4 linked regions of the Homo sapiens genome follow. The protein of the gene in region 1 purifies or fractionates together with the protein of each later gene. This does not show direct contact. Each region holds a gene or a part of one and is shown in the gene's direction. Other genes may lie near its edges. The genes, in order: ZNF74, TCEAL5, JAG2 and PTPRK.

What was found.
Region 2: the proteins of ZNF74 (region 1) and TCEAL5 purify together in Homo sapiens (affinity purification with mass spectrometry; one large-scale study listed by BioGRID and IntAct). This does not show direct contact.
Region 3: the proteins of ZNF74 (region 1) and JAG2 purify together in Homo sapiens (affinity purification with mass spectrometry; one large-scale study listed by BioGRID and IntAct). This does not show direct contact.
Region 4: the proteins of ZNF74 (region 1) and PTPRK purify together in Homo sapiens (affinity purification with mass spectrometry; one large-scale study listed by BioGRID and IntAct). This does not show direct contact.

What each region holds. Positions count from the first base shown.
Region 1 is NC_000022.11:20,400,172-20,404,951, forward strand, and holds part of ZNF74 (zinc finger protein 74), read left to right. Parts: intron 1-460; coding exon 461-587; intron 588-1,105; coding exon 1,106-1,201; intron 1,202-4,780. UniProt on the Homo sapiens protein: May play a role in RNA metabolism.
Region 2 is NC_000023.11:103,273,143-103,278,365, reverse strand, and holds TCEAL5 (transcription elongation factor A protein-like 5), read left to right. Parts: upstream 1-1,615; 5' UTR 1,616-1,693; intron 1,694-3,023; 5' UTR 3,024-3,091; intron 3,092-3,775; 5' UTR 3,776-3,802; coding exon 3,803-4,423; 3' UTR 4,424-4,675; downstream 4,676-5,223. UniProt on the Homo sapiens protein: May be involved in transcriptional regulation.
Region 3 is NC_000014.9:105,143,956-105,148,735, reverse strand, and holds part of JAG2 (protein jagged-2 isoform a precursor), read left to right. Parts: intron 1-296; coding exon 297-410; intron 411-506; coding exon 507-620; intron 621-847; coding exon 848-964; intron 965-1,208; coding exon 1,209-1,236; intron 1,237-1,324; coding exon 1,325-1,410; intron 1,411-2,011; coding exon 2,012-2,125; intron 2,126-2,235; coding exon 2,236-2,351; intron 2,352-2,762; coding exon 2,763-3,005; intron 3,006-3,674; coding exon 3,675-3,806; intron 3,807-4,780. UniProt on the Homo sapiens protein: Putative Notch ligand involved in the mediation of Notch signaling. Involved in limb development.
Region 4 is NC_000006.12:128,513,757-128,518,536, reverse strand, and holds part of PTPRK (receptor-type tyrosine-protein phosphatase kappa isoform b precursor), read left to right. Parts: intron 1-4,780. UniProt on the Homo sapiens protein: Regulation of processes involving cell contact and adhesion such as growth control, tumor invasion, and metastasis. Negative regulator of EGFR signaling pathway. Forms complexes with beta-catenin and gamma-catenin/plakoglobin.

The sequences.
Region 1 (4,780 bases):
GTGTAATAACAGTTTCTAGTCTGGGATCGGATCCTTTTGCGTTACTGAGCTTTGAATAGAGTTGCTGGGATTTTTGTACTATTAATATTCTCTCAAATTTTTAAGTTTGAAATTCTTGACTCCAGGAAGCATAGCATCTCACCCAGGACTTAGAGCCTGATACAACAGCCATGTACAGCCCCTGGGTCCCACCGCAAGTTGCCAGGGCCCTGTGGTGTCTATTCAGACCTGCTTTCCCAATCTAGAAGGTGGTGTGGGAATGCATGCCAATTCCCAGCCCCCCTCCCTGCCCCTGGTCCCCGAATTCAGTCATGGTCAGTGTCTACAGCACAACCTTCTGGCATGGGAGAAGGTCACCTGAGGTTAACCCTTTACTTGTAGGGTCCTTAATCAATCTCTGGCTCCTTTGGAACCATGGACACAGAATCAGTCCTGGGTGAGAACCTATATGTCATTTCAGGAATCGGTGAGTTTCAAGGATGTGGCTGTGGACTTCACCCAGGAGGAGTGGGGTCAACTAGACTCCCCTCAGAGGGCCTTGTACCGGGATGTGATGTTGGAGAACTACCAGAACCTTCTTGCCCTAGGTAAAATCCCCCCAGCCCCAGGCTGGGCGTCGGCTGTCAGCCTTCTTCTACATGGTAGATATTAAGGAGAATCCCTTCAGTGCCGGCCCTGGTGCCAGATATATCATGGGGTGGGAAGCAAGGCCTGTGCCTTGGGGCACTCATGGCCAGGGGCCTCGGCCACGCCAGAAGTCCCCAAGGGACAGCGTGGGAGCTGGTAGCATCCTTGCTTGGTGTTTCCCCTGGTCCTGGGATAGGGGCAGGGAGAGAAGAGAAGAAGGTGGGACCCTGGAGCCCAGCTGGCTCTGGAACAGTCCTCAAGCAATGAAGTAAGGACGTCAGCACACGTGGGGTCTTCAGAGTATACACTGGGATTTGGGTTCCAGTCTGAGACCCTCACTGCTTTTGGCCCAGAGGACCTCCTGTTCCCAGAGAGGGTGTCCACTTCACAGGCATTGTCCTTGTTAGGGGGCGGCCTGTAAGGTCGACTGGGCCTGGAGAGCTGCAGCATGCCCAGCCCACTTTCTCTCCACGAGCAGGACCTCCACTGCACAAGCCAGATGTGATCTCTCATCTGGAACGAGGCGAGGAGCCATGGAGCATGCAGAGGGAAGTCCCCAGAGGGCCCTGTCCAGGTGAGCAGAGGCACAGGTGGAAGGGTGCCAGCCCCAGCACCCCTGGTGGCACCTCCTCCTATGGCCCCTATTTTCCTCCCTCAGTTTGCCCCGGCTCCATCTCCCCTTTTCAGGTCCCCCGCCAGACCCTCCTGCCTGCCTCCCTTCAGCACGTACTGAGCACTGCCTGTGTGCTGAGACCTGTTCTGGGATACAACAGGGAACAAACCTGGCCACTGGGACCAAATGGTCACCTGCTGATGGGGATGGGGAGGCAGGAATAGAAATATTGAGCCATTGGTGTTGGCTGGGCAGCCGGGGGTGTGGGATTGGGGGCAGGGGGCCACCAGGGAAGGGGCAGCTGGCGTTGGTCAGTGTCAGGGTCAGCATGAGCATCAGCATCAGGGCCAGCGTCAGCGTCAGGGTCAGAGCCAGCATCAGTGTCAGGGCCAGCGTGAGCATCAGCATCAGGGCCAGTGTGAGCATCAGTGTCAGGGCCATCATCAGCGTCAGGGTCAGAGTCAGCATCAGCATTAGGGTCAGCATCAGCGTCAGGGTCAGGGTCAACGTCAGCGAGGGCTTCCAGGCTGTGGCCAAGATGGCAGCCCTCCGTAAGGGAAAGGGGACTGGGGTGGGTGTTGAGCAGAAGGTAGTCTGCTTTTCTTCTCCAACATTCTTTTTGTAGACTTCTCTTCTGAGTTGGTTGATAAATAAGTGGTAAATTCGGCTTAATTTATTGGACAGTGACTGCTGAGCATGTTAGGTGTCTAGAAAGCTCGAGAAACACCTTTCTGTGGGAAAGGCAGCCGATAAGCTGTGGAGCACAGAACACGGGGGTCGGGGAAGGCAGCCCCTCCTCCATCCCCCTCCACTGCCACATACCACCCAGCCCCAACCTGCAACAGTGGCTGCAGCCCCAGCTTTCTGGTCTTTATTTCTCACCCCAGCCTCTGATGCTTGCTTTGTCCTCTTTAACAAGATTACAGGTTTCAAAAAATTCATATTTTTGTTTGATTCATATATGAATATACTGAAAATGAGGCTGAAAGGTTACTGAAATCCTGCATAATCTTTCCACCCAGAGATGACGGTTCTCTAATAACTGACCATGTCACTGATTCCTCTGGGCCCTTCCTCTGTGTGCGGATAGACTTCTAAAGCTACATGTGGCCAGGCGTGATGGCTCACACCTGTAATCCCAACACTTTGGGAGGCCGAGGCAGGCAGATCACCTGAGGTCAGGAGTTCGAGACCAGCCTGACCAACATAGAGAAACCCTGTCTCTACTAAAATTACAAAATTAGCTGGGCATGGTGGTGCATGCCTGTAATCCCAGCTACTTGGGAGGCTGAGGCAGGAGAATCGCTTGAACCCAGGAGGCAGAGGTTGCGGTGAGCTGAGATCGTGCCATTGCACTCCAGTCTGGGTAACAAGAGTGAAATTCCATCTCAAAAAAAAAAAAAAAAAAAAATTAGCTGGGCGTGGTGGTGAGCACCTGTAATCCCAGCTACTCTGGAGGCTTAGGCAGGAGAATTGCTTGAACCCGGGAGGCAGAGGTTGCAGTGAGCCATGATCGCACCATTGCACTCCAGCCTGTGTGACAGAGCTAAACTCCATCTCAAACAAATAAATAAATAAAGCCTTATGCACCCTCGGAAGCACAGCACTCACGCCGGAGTCTGGCTACCACACTGGCCATGGCATAGTGAGCGTCCTCACGTGATGTTTACTGATTGCACAGTATCCCTTAGATGAATGTGCCCTGCTGTGTTGTTGGCCCTATTGCTGCCAAAACAACTTTTTTCTGGCCTGGGCCTCTTCTCTCTGCTCTGTGCAACTTCCCTAGACTCTTACCTCTCACTTGGTGTGGATGTGGTCTACACTATAGCAACACCAGCTGAGCTGCAGCCCTGTGTCACTGACCATCTCGTGGGCCTCTGCTTGCATGTCTAAAACCAGACTTGGAACTGGCCCTTCCTCCTCCTTTATAAAAGCTTCCACCATCCACCCAGGCTTGGGTGTTTGCTGAGGTCTCATCCTCTCCCCCATTTCCTCTCTTGCCACCTTCAGTCAACAGCTAGGGCCATCAGTTTTAGCACCTAAATGGCTCTTAGATCTGCTGCTTCCTGTTCATTTTCACAGCCTTGGTTCCAGTCTGAAGTTGCCATTTTTCACCTGAATTATTCAGATGGCCTCCCTAACTGGCCTCCCTAACTGCTGGCTCCAACCACCTTACACACCACCAAAGCCACCTTCAAGACAAACCATTATGCCAGGCACAGGGACTCACACATCTAATCCCAGCACTTTGGGAGGCCAAGGCAGGAGGACCACTTGAGCCCAGGAGTTGGAGGCTGCAGCGAGCTGTGATTGCACCCCTGCACTGCAGCCTGGACAACAGAGCGAGACTGTGTCCCCGCCCTCTGCTTCCCCCGCCCCCCGTCAAGACACCATATGATCACATCACCCTCTGTGCAAAAGGCCTTTCTTCCCCGGCTGCCCTCTGAGTCAGGCATCTGGTCACCTCGAACCCATCCACCTTGCCAGGGTCACCTCTCAGCCTTCCTGCCTCTGCGTGTCTTGTCTTCATCTTACTGTCTCACCTCTGAGCTTCTGCACATGCTGTTCACTCTCCACCTGGCTACCTGCCATGTGTGCCATGGCCAGTTCCACTTGCCCTGCTCTTCTGCATGTGTTGGGGCCACAGGCAGCACCACCATGCAGCTCTGCCCGCTGCACTAGACTGCTCCCTTTTAAGCCTGGGGAGGACAGAATTAGAAATAAAATCTCCTGCCAGCTCAGAAAACCTTGCTATAGAGATAGAAAAGAAAGAAAGCCTTCTTATTGAATAAGTGTTTAACCAGATGTGGTGTACAGGAGAGAAAGAAACCTCCCCCTTTGACAGAGGAGACACATCCAACCCAGCACACAGGGCAACTGTCTTCACCTAAAGGAAGAGTACAGCTTTTTGGGTTTTGTTTGTTTGTTTGTTTTTTGAGACAGGGTATCCCTCTATTGCCCAGGCTGGGGTGCGGTTGCATGATCATAGCTCGAAGCCTCAACCTCCCTAGGCTCAGGTGATCCTCCCACCTCAGCCTCCTGAGTAGCTGGGACTATAGACAGGTACCATCATTCCTGGCTAATTTTGTATTTTTTGTAGAGGGGTCTCACTGTGTTACCCAGGCTGGTCTTGATCTGGGCTCAAGTGATCCGCCACCTTGACCTCCCAAAGTGCTGGGATTACAGGTATGAGCCACCGCGCCCAGCCTCTTGTAGCTTTTTGACAAGCAGGAAGTTACATCTTGGACTCGACTCTTGGACTAGGCTCATTTTGCTTCTGAAAAGGTTTGCATGCGTCTCGAGACAGAGAAAGCATTTGCAATTCCCAGTGTTCTAAAGGGAAGCGCTGGGGTGTGGGGAGCCCTTTTTTCCTTTTGGCACCACAGACAATTTTTAATTCATTTGTTAGTCCTAGCTACTCGGGAGGCTGAGGCCGGAGAATGGCGTGAACCTGGGAGGCGGAGCTTGCAGTGAGCCGAGATCGCGCCACTGCACTCCGGCCTGGGCGACAGAGCGAGACTCGGTCTCAAAACAAACAAA
Region 2 (5,223 bases), on another chromosome or scaffold:
GGTCAATATGGACAGCATGGCAGAACTCCTTAGACACTGGCCTAAATTTGCTGAGACAGTCATAGGTTAGTATGGACTGGCAGGCAGCAATCCTGCAGCAAGGTTAGGCTCCCTCTGGGTTCCCTGAAGATACAGAGTTTGGGGGTGAGAGGCCCGCCAGACTGCACTTTTTAGGCTAGGCGGGAGGTAACAGACAGGGTCTAGGGAGGCTTCCACTCAGGCACTGTGAATAAGGGCAGAGAGCAGGCAGGTTGCAGGGGACTCTACCCCAGCAATCACTTCAGGCCTCATGAACACCCTCAGCTGCAAGGGTCTAGAAGAGATCTGTTCTAGTTTTCTAGAGGCATGAACAATGCTCCACTCTGTGCTGGGGCTGGGTTATCCCTGTGGGAATTAGGGGGAGGGAGGAGGGAAGGAGCCAAAGGCATTTACTCATATCACCACCTTGGTCACCTGTCCAGTTATATTCTTGGACAGATGACTCTTGAGCAACAGAGTCATGTGCCTGGGGATGAGAAATGCAGGGGATGAGAAATTCTAGAATATGAGGGGGTGGAGAAGAACACCTTCCCCTGATCTTGGCAGGGCAGGGAGGATAGGACCATTTCTGCATCCTTCACATCTCCTGCAGCCTTGGTCTCACAGCTCTTCCCTTCCCCTAGAGCTAAACATTTGAATGAAAATAGCCATGAGCCAAATTTTTTAAAGAGACATTTTTGAATTTTCTTTCAACCATCAGATTCCAGCAAGTCTATTTAGCACTCAGTAATCGTTTGGGAACATTAAATGTGTGTGTGTGTGTGTGTGTGTGTGTGTGTGTGTGTGTGTGTGTGTGTTAAATAGAACGTGAGAGAACCAGCTATTTATGAAAAATTTCTAATGTATATTTTGCTTGTTGCCAATTGAATTCCTTGTGTATATGGCAAAAGTTAATATTATGAACCTAATTTGGTCTCTCTTCTGAGTAGAAAATTTTGAAATCTTTTAAGTTTTTCTCTCTCTTAAACACTTTCTCATAAATGAAATAGCTTTATTTAATTTTGTGCTTATAAGAATAACCCATGCTGAGGAGAGTGAATTAAATAAGATCAAAAAAATTTAAAAAAATAAAACCCCTATTTTAACTACTTGTGTCCCTACTTGACAATCCACCTTGTACCCATTATGAGAAGGTCTGGTTCACAGGCAGAATGAACATCAGTGGCTGCGTGTAGAATTAGATCGAGTAGGTGCCTTCGGATAAAAGGAGAGAAAGAAAAAAAATTCCTCTGAGATGTACCAATGGCCAATAGCTCTAGAAGAAGGTGCGGTCCCTCCCTGATAACCACGGAAGAATAAATACATACTACACAGAGAAAGGGCCACATTTGACCTGTGGGATTAGCAAAGACCAAAATGAGTGACAGGGCCCCGTGCTGTGGGGCGAGAGAGAGAGCTAAGCCGGGGTTGGGGGTGCTGAGGGCGCTCAGACGGACAGACTAGTGAAGGGAAGAAGTGGGCTGGCTCCTGACGCACTTTCTGCGGGTGGGAGGGGAACTAGGGACCCGAGCCCACTGGTGACGTTTTTCTCACGTGATCTGAAGCCGACGTGTGCAGAAGTCCCTCTCCTCCAGGTACCAGATCCCTGTTTCCGTGGAGGAAGGCAGACTTCAGACTGAAGGACAGAGAAGGCAACTGCCCTACAGCCCTGCAGGTCGGTACAAGCCGGGGACCCCTGAGGTAGGGATGGTAATGCACATAGGCTACAGAGGATCGGATCTGCTTTCTAGATACCGCCCTGTTCCACCCCCATTCATTTTGGCGCAGAAATTTTTTTGTGTTGGGCAAGAGGTATGGGTACCAGCTTTTATTTCCCTGGAGAAGTGCAGGCTTCTGGCAGAAGGAAATGTGAGAAAGAGTCATTTCCCCGAGATGGCTACGAACCCATCCACAGCCTGTGGATCCCTGTGGTTGGGATGGCAGAGGGCAAAGACCAGAGCGGGTCCAGGACTGGATTCTCTCCACTCCTTTCCCGATGCTCACTCATTTGGTGCAAGAAATGGAGGGCTTGGTGCGGGGCGGGGAGGGGGGAGGGGGGCGGAACTCGAGAGAGGTCAAGGGTTGAGAATTGGGTACCAGTTGGGAACTCCTAGGAAGCCGGCGACCGGGTGATGTCTGATGGAGGAGGAGGAGGACCAGGGAAGAGAACAGCGACGAAACGGCGAGAAAACGGCCTGATCCCTGCAAGGCAGCGGGAGGCGGGCACAGTCAGTGACCCCAGGCTGCTGAGGGCGGACCCTGCAACGGGTCCAGGCCTGAGTTCCCTGTGTCTTTTCTCCAACCTCCCTCCATTTTGGAGCCGGAAACGGTGGGCTAAGGGGGTCAGGGGAAGGAGGTGCTGTAGAAAAAGGGAGACAGAGGTTTGATCTGGGGATCAGCTCCCTATCCAGGAGGAGTGGCTTCTGAAGTAGGAGGATTGAGATGAGGTAGCAGCAAGACCAAAAATGTTACCGGGTTTGGAAATAATTTGTCTCTTGCATTGCAGAAAAATGTGGGCTTTCTGTGTATGTGGGGAGGGAGGAGGTGGCAGGAGTGTTTTGGACATTTCTGCCCTGCCCCCTATCTCTGTCATCACCATTTTCAGAGAAGTGGTGGGCTCTGCTATTTGGCTACCCTAGGGTGAGGGATTTGGAATGTAGAGATCTGAGTGCATCAGAACACTCTGTCTTCAGAACATCCTTGTCTCTAACCCTACTCATTTTCGTGCCAGAAAAGTGAGATAAAAATTTGGGAGGAAGATTCAGAAACATAGAAACGCTTTGGAAATAATCTTTCTCGCCTATTTCCCACAAGTAGAACAATGGAGGCTCTTAAGAAAGAGCTGCGCGCGGAGGGGGAATCAGAGAATGCAAGGGAAAAGGCGAGGAGGTGATAGGAGCTCGGAAAGTTTTGACAAATACGGTCCCAAAGAACCAGTGTCCAAGTTACCAGTCATTCACTTTCTCAATTTCTCATTCACCCACCTGTTTCTTGTCTTTCTGCAGGTCTTCAAGTCTGTGGTTGTGGGCACTAACCCAGACAAGAAAAGGAAAGACCTGCAGTATCGGTGCAGGTCAGTGGGAGAGGGCTACTGCACCAGGACCCTTGGGAGTAGGAGTAACTTAAGCCAGAGCAGAAGTTGGGGAGGCCACTGCCTGCCACCCCTCCTCCAATCCTCCCTCTTGCAGTTTCGGGATACATGACTGCTGTCAAGACCCTAAGGGGATATGGTGATCTATGGCTGGTGAGGATAGAGGGGAGAATAAGAAAGTAAGAGAATGGAGGTGTAGCATCTGTGATGCCCCCTGAGGACATAAGGGTAGCCCTGAAATCTGAGAACTGGCTATGGTTCTGTTCTGTCTGCAGTTTTATAAGTCTTACAACTGCATGCAAGGGGAAAAAGAAGAAAACTGCCCAGGATTTCTGCAGGTCCGTGTAAATTGGAACTACCCAGTTAAAATTGGTATGGGTAGGCATAGCCAAGGCCAGAGCAAAGTTTAAGGGCCAATATGCTCCTACGCATTTCTCAGCACATCCTCCTTAAATGTAGGGAGAAGCACCTGTGGAAGTTTCTGTAAGGTTGGCTTGTGTGAACATGTGTAAAGTGAAAAGGAAAGGAAGGAATGTAAGGGTGGGAGTGCACCTGGAAGATGGGATAGGGCCAGGAAAACCCTAAGTTAAGAAAGACAAGTACTATAAGGACCTGTGTTCAACCCCCAAAGCCCTCAGTGTCCTGTGTCTTCTTTTTGTCTCCTAGGAAAGGCAAAGAAGGGAACATCTCAACATGGAAAAGCTCTACAAAGAAAATGAAGGAAAGCCAGAGAATGAAAGAAACCTAGAAAGTGAGGGAAAGCCAGAGGATGAGGGAAGTACAGAAGATGAAGGAAAGTCAGACGAGGAAGAAAAGCCGGACATGGAGGGGAAGACAGAATGCGAGGGAAAGCGAGAGGATGAGGGAGAGCCAGGTGATGAGGGACAACTGGAAGATGAGGGAAACCAGGAAAAGCAGGGCAAGTCTGAAGGTGAGGACAAGCCACAAAGTGAGGGCAAGCCAGCCTCCCAGGCCAAGCCAGAGAGCCAGCCGCGGGCCGCCGAAAAGCGCCCGGCTGAAGATTATGTGCCCCGGAAAGCAAAAAGAAAAACCGACAGGGGGACGGACGATTCCCCCAAGGACTCTCAGGAGGACTTACAAGAAAGGCATCTGAGCAGTGAGGAGATGATGAGAGAATGTGGAGATGTGTCAAGGGCTCAGGAGGAGCTAAGGAAAAAACAGAAAATGGGTGGTTTTCATTGGATGCAAAGAGATGTACAGGATCCATTCGCCCCAAGGGGCCAACGGGGTGTGAGGGGAGTGAGGGGCGGAGGTAGGGGCCAGAAAGACTTAGAAGATGTCCCATATGTTTAATGTCTTTGGCCTTTAATTCTGATTTCTCTGATGGGAATATTGCCAGTCCTGCTTTTCCTGGCAGGCATTTGCCGGCCTATGTGCTTTAACCTTAAGCTGATACTTTCCTTTAGGTGTCACTCTTGTTACCAGCAGACTTTTGACCCAACTACAGTGCTCTGTCTTTTAGTAGAGGATTTTCACCCATGTGCATGGAATAAATGTTCATGGTACATTGTAAAATAACAATAAAAAAGAGTTTTCAGAACCATGTATACAGTATCAGCCCATTTCTGAAAAAAAATGTTTACATAATATATCCATACATGGGGGACACTATGCAATTGAGTAGATCAAAGAGAAATCATGAATTTCTTTGTGTGGTGGGACTGAAAATTATTCTTTTTCTCATCTGTACTTCTTTTAAATCTAAAAAGCACAGGCTATTTTTGTTTTAAAGGAAGTAATAAAAGGTAAACAAAATAGGAAAATAGTAAATACTAGGCAATCAAAAGAACTATTCATTGATCATATTAAGGCAGTGGAGACAAAATTCTTGTTAGAACACAAAATGATAGATAAAACTCACATTACCCCTGGGACTTGAAGTTGGAGGAATCAACCTGGCAGTTACTACAGATTCATTGCTATAAGAGACAGCCTTGTGTGAAATGGGGCTGAAACTTACCTCCCAGGGCTGTGGAGTAGATCAGATGTGACGCTTGAGTCTGTGACCTATGTTAGGCTGGCTCCTGCCCTCTCCCCTGCACTAACAGTACCAAGTCAGACAGTTGGTGAGGGTATGGAGTGTTGCGGAGGGA
Region 3 (4,780 bases), on another chromosome or scaffold:
CCAGCACCCGCCCACACGGCCTGTGCCTCCACCCCTGTGGGCCCCTTATCACCCTGAGATGGACCGCTGTCTGGGTGCGGCAGGCCCCGTACCCAGAAAGGCCTGGCCAGGGGGTGCTGCCACCATGGGGTGGAGTCCCAGGCTGCCCCCATGCCCGAGGCCAGCTCCCCCGGCCCGACGCTCCTCCCCCGCCCCTCTCTGTCCTCACCTGGCCCAGCTCCAGTGCTTCCTCCCCCGGGAAGCCCTCCCTGAGCGCCGGTGACCCCCCGCCCGCTGACCGGCGTCCTCGCCCCCAGATCCCAACGACTGCCTTCCCGATCCCTGCCACAGCCGCGGCCGCTGCTACGACCTGGTCAATGACTTCTACTGTGCGTGCGACGACGGCTGGAAGGGCAAGACCTGCCACTCACGTGAGTGTCCGCAGGCCCTGGCCGCCTGGGGCTGCCCCCAGGACCCTGGCCCTGGCGGTCTGGGGCCTGCCTGCTGAGCGGCCCATGTGCCAACAGGCGAGTTCCAGTGCGATGCCTACACCTGCAGCAACGGTGGCACCTGCTACGACAGCGGCGACACCTTCCGCTGCGCCTGCCCCCCCGGCTGGAAGGGCAGCACCTGCGCCGTCGGTGAGGAGCCCCCGCTGCCTCTGCGACCGCCGGGCATATGCCCTCCCAGGCACCGCTCCCTCGGGCGCGATGGGCCGAGGGGTCTTTTTTGAGGGCCACACCTGCCACCTGCCCCCTGCCCCCTGCCCCCGGGTCTGTCTGCCCTGTCTGGGTTGGGGGCGCGGTATGGAGACCCAGGGCCAGCCCAGGGCCAGGTGAGACGCTCCCTCCTCCTCCTCTCCTTACAGCCAAGAACAGCAGCTGCCTGCCCAACCCCTGTGTGAATGGTGGCACCTGCGTGGGCAGCGGGGCCTCCTTCTCCTGCATCTGCCGGGACGGCTGGGAGGGTCGTACTTGCACTCACAGTGAGTGTGGGAGGGGTGTGGGCGGGGGCCGCTTTCCTCCACCCAGATGACATCCCTGCCCCCGACTCGCCCCCCAGTCCCTTCTGCCAGCCCCTCCCCCTGCTGCCCCTGCCCCCAGCAAAAGGCACCCTCCTTGATGACCCTCCCCAGCCCCACAGCCTGATCACGCCAAGCCAGCCTGGACAGTGCCTGGCACGCTTGGGGGGTGGGTACTGATCCCCTGCGTTCTCTTCTCCCAAACCAGATACCAACGACTGCAACCCTCTGCCTTGGTGAGTGGCACCCTGGGGGCCACAGCAGGGGTGGGTGGGACTTGGCATACCACGGGGGGCCACCTGATGCCCACCCTCTGCTCTGCAGCTACAATGGTGGCATCTGTGTTGACGGCGTCAACTGGTTCCGCTGCGAGTGTGCACCTGGCTTCGCGGGGCCTGACTGCCGCATCAGTGAGTGGCCAGACAGCCCCAGCCCTGGGAGCCCCTCAGCCCAGCCGCGGTGTCAGGAGTCTGGGGACATCAACGTCCACGTCCCTTGAAGGGCAGTGTGGCCACAACTACTTCCTGCCTCTCTTCTGAGCCTCAGTTTCCCCACATGTCTGTGCCCTGTGGGGTTCCTGCTGTATACCCTGCCAAGTGATTAAGTGGGGAGCCCCAGCCTGGGGGACCAGTCCGGGGCCCAGGGAGCTGTGGGGGTTGGAGCGTGCAGCCTGACGTGGGCTCCTCTGTGGCCGCAGGGCTGTTGTCCCTGGGTGTTGGCCCAGCTGTCTGTCCAGCACCCCTTGGCTGGTCCGACGCAGCAGCTGGGGCTAATCCAGGATGGGACAGGCCCACTGCAGAAGCAGACGGAGGAGGGTGCTGTTGGGCCAGGGTCAGGCTGGGCTCAGGAAGGCCTCAGGCAGGCAGCAGCTTGGGCTCGGGGGCAGGGGCTGCTCCTCATTGTCCTGGGGCTTGCGCCTGTGTGCCACTGGCTCCCCGCTGCCCTAGGCCATGCCGGTCCTGCGGTGGGCGTTGGCCTCACTGCACTGAGCAGCGGTGGCTCTCCCTGCAGACATCGACGAGTGCCAGTCCTCGCCCTGTGCCTACGGGGCCACGTGTGTGGATGAGATCAACGGGTATCGCTGTAGCTGCCCACCCGGCCGAGCCGGCCCCCGGTGCCAGGAAGGTAGGCCCCGTGTGATTGCCCTGGGTTGGGGCGGGTTGGGGGGCATGGGTGACACCCAGCCCCGAGGGCCAGATGCCCACTGCTGACCCTCGAGCCCCTTCTCCCCACAGTGATCGGGTTCGGGAGATCCTGCTGGTCCCGGGGCACTCCGTTCCCACACGGAAGCTCCTGGGTGGAAGACTGCAACAGCTGCCGCTGCCTGGATGGCCGCCGTGACTGCAGCAAGGTGAGGGCAGCCCGTGAGCCGCCCTGCCCTACCCGAGGCTGGTGCACGCTGACCCTGGCCACTCTGTGAGATCAGGAGGCGGGTGCTGGGGTCCGGATGGACTGAGAGCCGTCTGCCCTCAGGGACACCCAGGGAGGCGAGAGCTCAGCCAGGCCCCATGCTTCGATGTGCAGTTGGGAAAACAGGCCTGGTCTGGGTCCTGCCTTGCTCCGCCTGCCCTTTCTGATGTCGAGCTTGGCCTGCCTCCCTGGGAGCCCTGGGTAGGGGGTGGGCTGGGCCCTGGGGCTCACAGACTTGGGCGGTGTCCCTCCTTGGCATGGGGCCCGTGCCTGCCTGTGGGTTCTCATCTGTGTGCCTGCATCTGACCCTCCTGTGCGCCTGCGCCTGACCCTCCTGTGCGTGCCTGCCCAGGTGTGGTGCGGATGGAAGCCTTGTCTGCTGGCCGGCCAGCCCGAGGCCCTGAGCGCCCAGTGCCCACTGGGGCAAAGGTGCCTGGAGAAGGCCCCAGGCCAGTGTCTGCGACCACCCTGTGAGGCCTGGGGGGAGTGCGGCGCAGAAGAGCCACCGAGCACCCCCTGCCTGCCACGCTCCGGCCACCTGGACAATAACTGTGCCCGCCTCACCTTGCATTTCAACCGTGACCACGTGCCCCAGGTGAGGGGCCTGGTGGCATCTGAGCTTGCAGAGGCCACACGCCGGCATCTGCTCGTGGCATGGCGAAAGCCTAGCCCCGCAGGGCAGGGAGGCCCTGGTTGGCTGAGCAGAGTCACTCTTGGTCACAGAGAGTGGCCCTGTGGGGTCAGATGAGAGGGGCATTGGGCCTGGTGCTGGGTGGAGGTGGCAGAGGAGGCTGGGAGAGCAGCCAGCTGGGGGTGCCTGTTTGTCCAGCTGCCCTGAGGGCCTGGACTGACGGCGCCATGGCTGCCTGGCCCCAGCTCTTGGGCTGTAGCTCCGTGGGCAGTTTTGCCCTGGCCTAGGAGCCACCTTTGCCTGCTGTGTGCTTGGAGCTGGGCCCCTGTCTCCCAGGAGGGGCTCAGAACTGGAGGAGACCCACTGTACCCCGCCCTGCCTCTCCTTCCCCCACTGGCCTGCAGGTGGAGCTGGGTCCGCCCTGAGGATGGGCGGGTGGGCACCGTCACTCCTGCCTCCTGGTATAGGGCACAGCCGGGTGGGAAGCTGCCCCCCCAGGCCCTTGGCATCCTTGCTGTGCTCTCCTGGGCGGGCTGTAGGGTGTGTCCCACGTGTACCCACAGCGCCAGTCCAGGGATGTAGGTGTCAGGTTCACGGCCCTGCCCTGCCCACGCACTGCCTGTCTCTGCCCAGGGCACCACGGTGGGCGCCATTTGCTCCGGGATCCGCTCCCTGCCAGCCACAAGGGCTGTGGCACGGGACCGCCTGCTGGTGTTGCTTTGCGACCGGGCGTCCTCGGGGGCCAGTGCTGTGGAGGTGGCCGTGGTGAGTGCCCAGTGGGGAGCAGCACCTGGGTGGGCCCTGGGTCCCGTACTATGCAGGTCCTGGCTATGCTGGACAGAGGCTCTGGCGAGGCTAGTCCTGGTGCGGAAGGACTGCGGGCAGGCCTGTCTCCCTGCGGCCCCTCGCTGTCCATGCCGCAGACCCGTGGAACTGCTCCCTGGGCCTGGCCAGCATGAGGGAGATGCAGGGCTGTGGTGTGGAGCCCGCTTCCCCTGCAGCTGCATCCTCGCCCGGTCCCCTGCTCTGTTTTTGTCTCTGTGTCCCTACGTCACAGGCAGCAGGAGAGTCCGTGGGCTTAGTCTGCCCTGGGAGGCCTGCTTTGGGACTGGCACCTGCCCTGGACCTGGGGGGTGTCAGATGTGAATGGATACCAAGGGGGTCGGGTGAGACTGGGGTGGAGACATGCCCGGAGAGGGGAGGGAATGTTCTGGAACATGGTGGGTGGGTGTGCAGAGCAGTGGGTGTGGCCATGGCACAGTGTGGCTGGTGGAGGCCATGGCCAGGCACAGGAAGGACGTGCAGTGTTTTGGTGCCCTGAGGCCGCAGAGGGGGTGGGGGACATGGATGGGTGCTGCTGGGTGATGGAAGGGCAGTAGGGGCAGGGGAAGATGTAAGAAGTGTGCCAGCACAGGTCAGGGCGCCATCAGGGATGTGGTGGAGGCAGGGGCACAGCCCCGGGTTGCTGTGGCCTCGTGAAGGCACTAGGTTTGTGGTGCCCCTGGGGTGTGGCCCATAGGTGGGGGTGGGGGCTGGGAACTGACAAGAAGGGATGGCCATCACGGAGCAGGTGTCAGCGAATGGGGCCACACACCTCCCCAACTCACTGCCTGGTGGCGAGGTCCCCACCGCAGGACCCCGGGCTCTCCTGTGTGCCCGGACGGGGACACCCTCCACCCCTCCACTTCCCCCCACCCCTCACTGCCTGCTGGTGAGGTCCCCACCGCAGGACCCTGGGC
Region 4 (4,780 bases), on another chromosome or scaffold:
TGAAAGTTTGAACTCTACCAGTTGCATAATTAAACTTACATGTATTCAAGAGTTGCAACTATTAATGTCTCAACAGCGATGGATATATTTTCAGCAGTTAGAAAACTTTTTCTCTTTTTAAATGTTATTTACCCTTTAATTAACAAATAAATACTACTTTTCCTCCAGCTGAATGTGAAAATGAGCTTTTCTGATACCTGGAGTTTAGATACGTACAATAAACAATTGTGTTCTTAGATATCTAGTTCTAAGTACTTTAACTAAATATGCCTGGCTTTTCTTTAGTGACAAAGCATAACATTTGACATGATGTTGTATATTTAATTAATATAATGTGCATTCCTAAAAAGTACAGTAATCACAGGATTGCATCTCAAGATTTTGCCCTTTAGGAATGTATGCCCAGAAATGAATGTCTTTTATTCCCAGAGTTTAAAGTCAGATTGTGGATTTGCCTTTCTCCACAAATTATAAGTTTGTTTTGTAAATACTTCCTTTTTTTTCTGGCTACCATAAATCATTTGATATTTTATTGTCATAAAATTCTATGGCAGTCAGATTTGTTGCAGACATAGATTAGAGATGTATTGAAGATTGGAGGTGTATTCCATATTGCTGGTTTTTCTTATATTTTACTTTAACTAGTGAACTTTTATTCCTTTTGAGAAATTTAAATAAACCCACTTTAAAAGTCCAAGACAAATTCATGTTGAGAATTTAAAAATATCTGAAGTATGTCTTTCAAATCATACTCATTAAGATCAGTTTACTTTCCGATATCATGTGGTTCCTAATGTAGTAAGCTTCAAAAGCAAATTTTGAAAGGCTGAGCATTGTTGGGACTTTGATGTGTCATATACTTATTCAGTTTTCTTTGTTTAAACCAAAAATGTAAGAGTGTTTTCATTATTGTGACTTTTTTCTTAGCTTTTGCAGTTAAAGTGTAAAACTGCTGCACTGTGAGCCTCTTTAAAACCAGAACGTTCTGTAAATCCCAACTCATACATTCTTTCAGTTTCACCTCTCACTTAAAATGACACCCATGTCATATCTGAGGAAACCGAGGCATAGAAGAATAAAGAAGTATTAAAGTTTATTCACTGGGTTGTATAGCTGTGATCTCTTGATATAATGTAAGAAAGTTTTCTGTAGAAGGACTTAGATGACTGACGAAACCAGATGCAGGTAAGGTGACTTGGAAACTCAGCTTTCTCCTCTGTAAAATGGGGATAATAATACCCAACTTGACCTTTCCACATGTTTTTTATGATTAAATGAAGTAATTTATGGGAACTAGCACTGTAAATTGTAAAGCACTGTGCAGCTATCTGGGGTGTAATCATCATTAAGTGCCTTAGTCTCAGCTTTTTACTCCTTCCAAATTCTCTCTCCAGTAAGTGCAGGCTGTTCAGGATTTGTGTGTGAGTGTGTGTGTGCGCACGTGTGTGTGTGCATGTGTGTGTGTGTTTTCACTCAGCCAGTCATTCATTTAATTATTGTTTAACATAGTTATTGTTAAACATAAACATACTAGATTGGCCAGACCATAATTTTGTCAGCACAATGATCGATTATCCTTAATTTTTTTAACTTACCTCGTATAAATCCTTACTTGAGTTAGACCCATGGAAGAGTCACTATTAACATTCCTGGCATTTCTAACTACAGAAAAAAATATTTTTAGTCAGTTTCTTTAGCTGTTTGTTTAACTGTTGGTTCAGGTTTTCAACTCTGTGTTGAGAATAATATGTAGCTTTCTAGATGCAGTCTTATCAATGACCTAGAGAGGGACTATTGTCTCTCTTGTATGATAGGAGCCTGGAAATACAGCTCGAGATCCTGCTTTGTCTATAGTTCCTGACATGTCACCCTGTTGATGTGCACTTAGAATGCTGTAACTCATCTAAGCAGCACCTGAGCAGTATCTGACTCCTTGTTGTCTCTTTAGGTGAGATTAATTTCTCTTATACTTATTACCTGCTAGGAAGATACTTTGGAGCCAGCTTGCTTTAAGGTTTGCCTGTTAGTTTTTTTTGGTTTTGATTGGCTAAATATCCCTCGATCCCTCAATTCATTAAAACTCCACGTTCTAATCACTAGCAATCATATGTAGCTGGACATTTCCAGGACTGTTTTTTTTTCTCTCTCTAGTTCTCTTGCATCTGACTCTTGATTTTCCTAGGTCGTGAGATGTAGTTTTGTGTCTGGCCTACCCAGACGGAAAGAGGAGAGTCTGGCTGCTGTTTGGACATTGGCATGTGTGCTGCTGACAGCTCTTCTCTTTGTGCTCATAAAAGTGAATTTCAAAAATAAATCAACCCCTCTGCCACTCTGCCCCCTCCCACACTCCCTCCTACTCTTTTCTAGCAAAAACAGAGCCCCACATATATATACACAAGATCACAGCCCTTTTGTTTTTGCCAAATATATTTTAGTGCTGTACATGTCCTTAAGAACTGGAAATATGACTCATCCACTAACCAAAGCTAATGCCAACATTCCCACCAAATCTCATATTTCTAGCAATGATGGTTTGTTACAGGTTTTTCTGGCCTTTAAGGTAATATTTAATTCATGTGATAAGATTCCATATAGAAAAAGTGTGTTGGCTACTAATATTTTTAAAGTGCAGTATACCAGGTCTACTCAAACTGGTATTAAAGACAGTGAACATCATGCTAAATAGGGATCTGTGCTGCTCCCATTTCCCCTACTTGCTTTTCATGGAGTGCAGGAAGAGAGATGCTGGAAGATTGAGAGCAGGAAGCATCAAGAAAGTTTACAGATTGTTCTTAAAGACAAAACAAAGAACACAGGGATTCTGTGTGTGTGCACGTGTATGTGTGTGTGTGAGTGTGTGTATGTGTTTTTGATCTTTTACTTAATTTTTAGAAGAGGAAAAAAGTCCTATGGTATTTTTGACTTGTTTATTGAAATCAGCCTTTGCCTTTGCGCAAACACATTTTCTAGTTCTGTCAATGTAAAAATTTCCCTCTGTGTATTCTTCTCAGTCTTTACACTTTGATCATATGTATCTGGTCTGTGTTCCTTCTTCAAATGGTGTTTCTTTTTGCCTAAAAAGGTTGTAATTGCTTTTGAACATGACTTGTTTTTTTAATCAAAACTCATGCTGTTTGTCATAGTACTGAAAAAAAAAAGTACAAGACATCAATTCATGATAGGTCTTAAAACAGTATTTGATAACAAAGTAAGTGAATAATACATTAATCAGGCTATTTTTTATTTCAATTGAAGCAAAAAGCAAACTTGCATATCCATGAACTAATCTTTTAATGTCACAGAACATTTATTTGTTGCTGTTTCTGAAGTCTTTAAGTTCCCTTTTATAAATGGGGATAGACAATTTCAGAACCACATTGCTTGATATTTTGAGATAAGTGAGATAAGTTACATACAACTATGCCTTGGAAAACTGAAAAAATGTTATGATGTTTGATATCAGTGTGAACTCTGAATAGTTTGTAAACTTCACACTCCACATTAGTGCAAATGTGTTTTGTGAAAATACTCCTAAAGAAACGTAGTTTCACATAAAAGGTTTTTAAAGTTTCATGAAGATTCTGTTGTGGGAAGTATGTTTATTTTCCTTTTGTATTCTTGTGGGAATTCTTTTGATCTGTATTTAATATTTTAATAATGAAAACTAAGTGTATGTAATTTTAAAACTTAGTTTCGTGAGGTTTTTTTTAGATTGTTGAGGTTCTGGGAAAACACTGGGCCTGGGATCTAAGGATCACATTGATCCTCTCGTGGAACATTGCCATTTCCCCACTTAACTCTGGTTGAAATTTTTGGCATTCTCCTTCGTGTGTTGATAATCCATAAAAATTACAAGTGGCTTATTTTGTCACTTACAGTTGTTTTAGGATCAAATTAAGTTGTCCTAAATGGAATAATCCGTGTTTCCACTTGATATGATTATTGAGCTCTGATAATGAAAATGATGAACAGGGCAGTGCTGGCTGAATCCTCCAACAGGTGTCATTCTAGGAATTGTTTTAATAAGGGGAATTCAGAAACAAGGCAAAATAAAATAGTGCGTAGTGGAGTTATTGTTTGTATTTATTTTGTTGGGAAATGTGAAAGATGTAAGTATGTAGTCCTCTGTGTGAATACACACACACACACACACACACACACACACATCTTAACAATGCTAGGACTTAGTTGTAGAAACATTTAGGTTAGAAAGAAGGTAAGGGCATCTAGAGATGGTATCAAAACTCCATACTTAACATTTTTGGAAAGAGTAGTGAAAATAGATCACTACTTTATTTCATAGATGTAGAAACAAGTGGAAAATAAGCTGTATATAATCTATACTGTATACTATACTATACTGTTATACTTTTAAGGATAAAATAATAAATCTTTCTCCAGATTGGTATCTATTAATATAAACCCTTCCCAGTGCAGCCTGTTCCTTAACCAGCTGCTCATAGGCCGATTCTCCAAGCGCTGTTCAAGGCAGCAGCTGACCAGCCACAGAAATTCCCTTAATCCGTGTTGGATAGTGGAGGTGACCTAGCAGCTGCTTAAGTGACAGACTGGCAACAGTTCCTTGATGTGATTTTTCTTAGGTCATTCAGTAAATTCAAGAGTAGAGAGGAAGGCTTTCTAGGGTCCTCACTACCCACCCAGGGATTGATGACTGATTGCTTCATGGTCATTGGATTCCTCACTGCAAGGTGTCCTGGGATTTTGTGGTTCATGGACCAATATAATTAGCATCATCTGGAAATTTGTGATGATCTGTGAT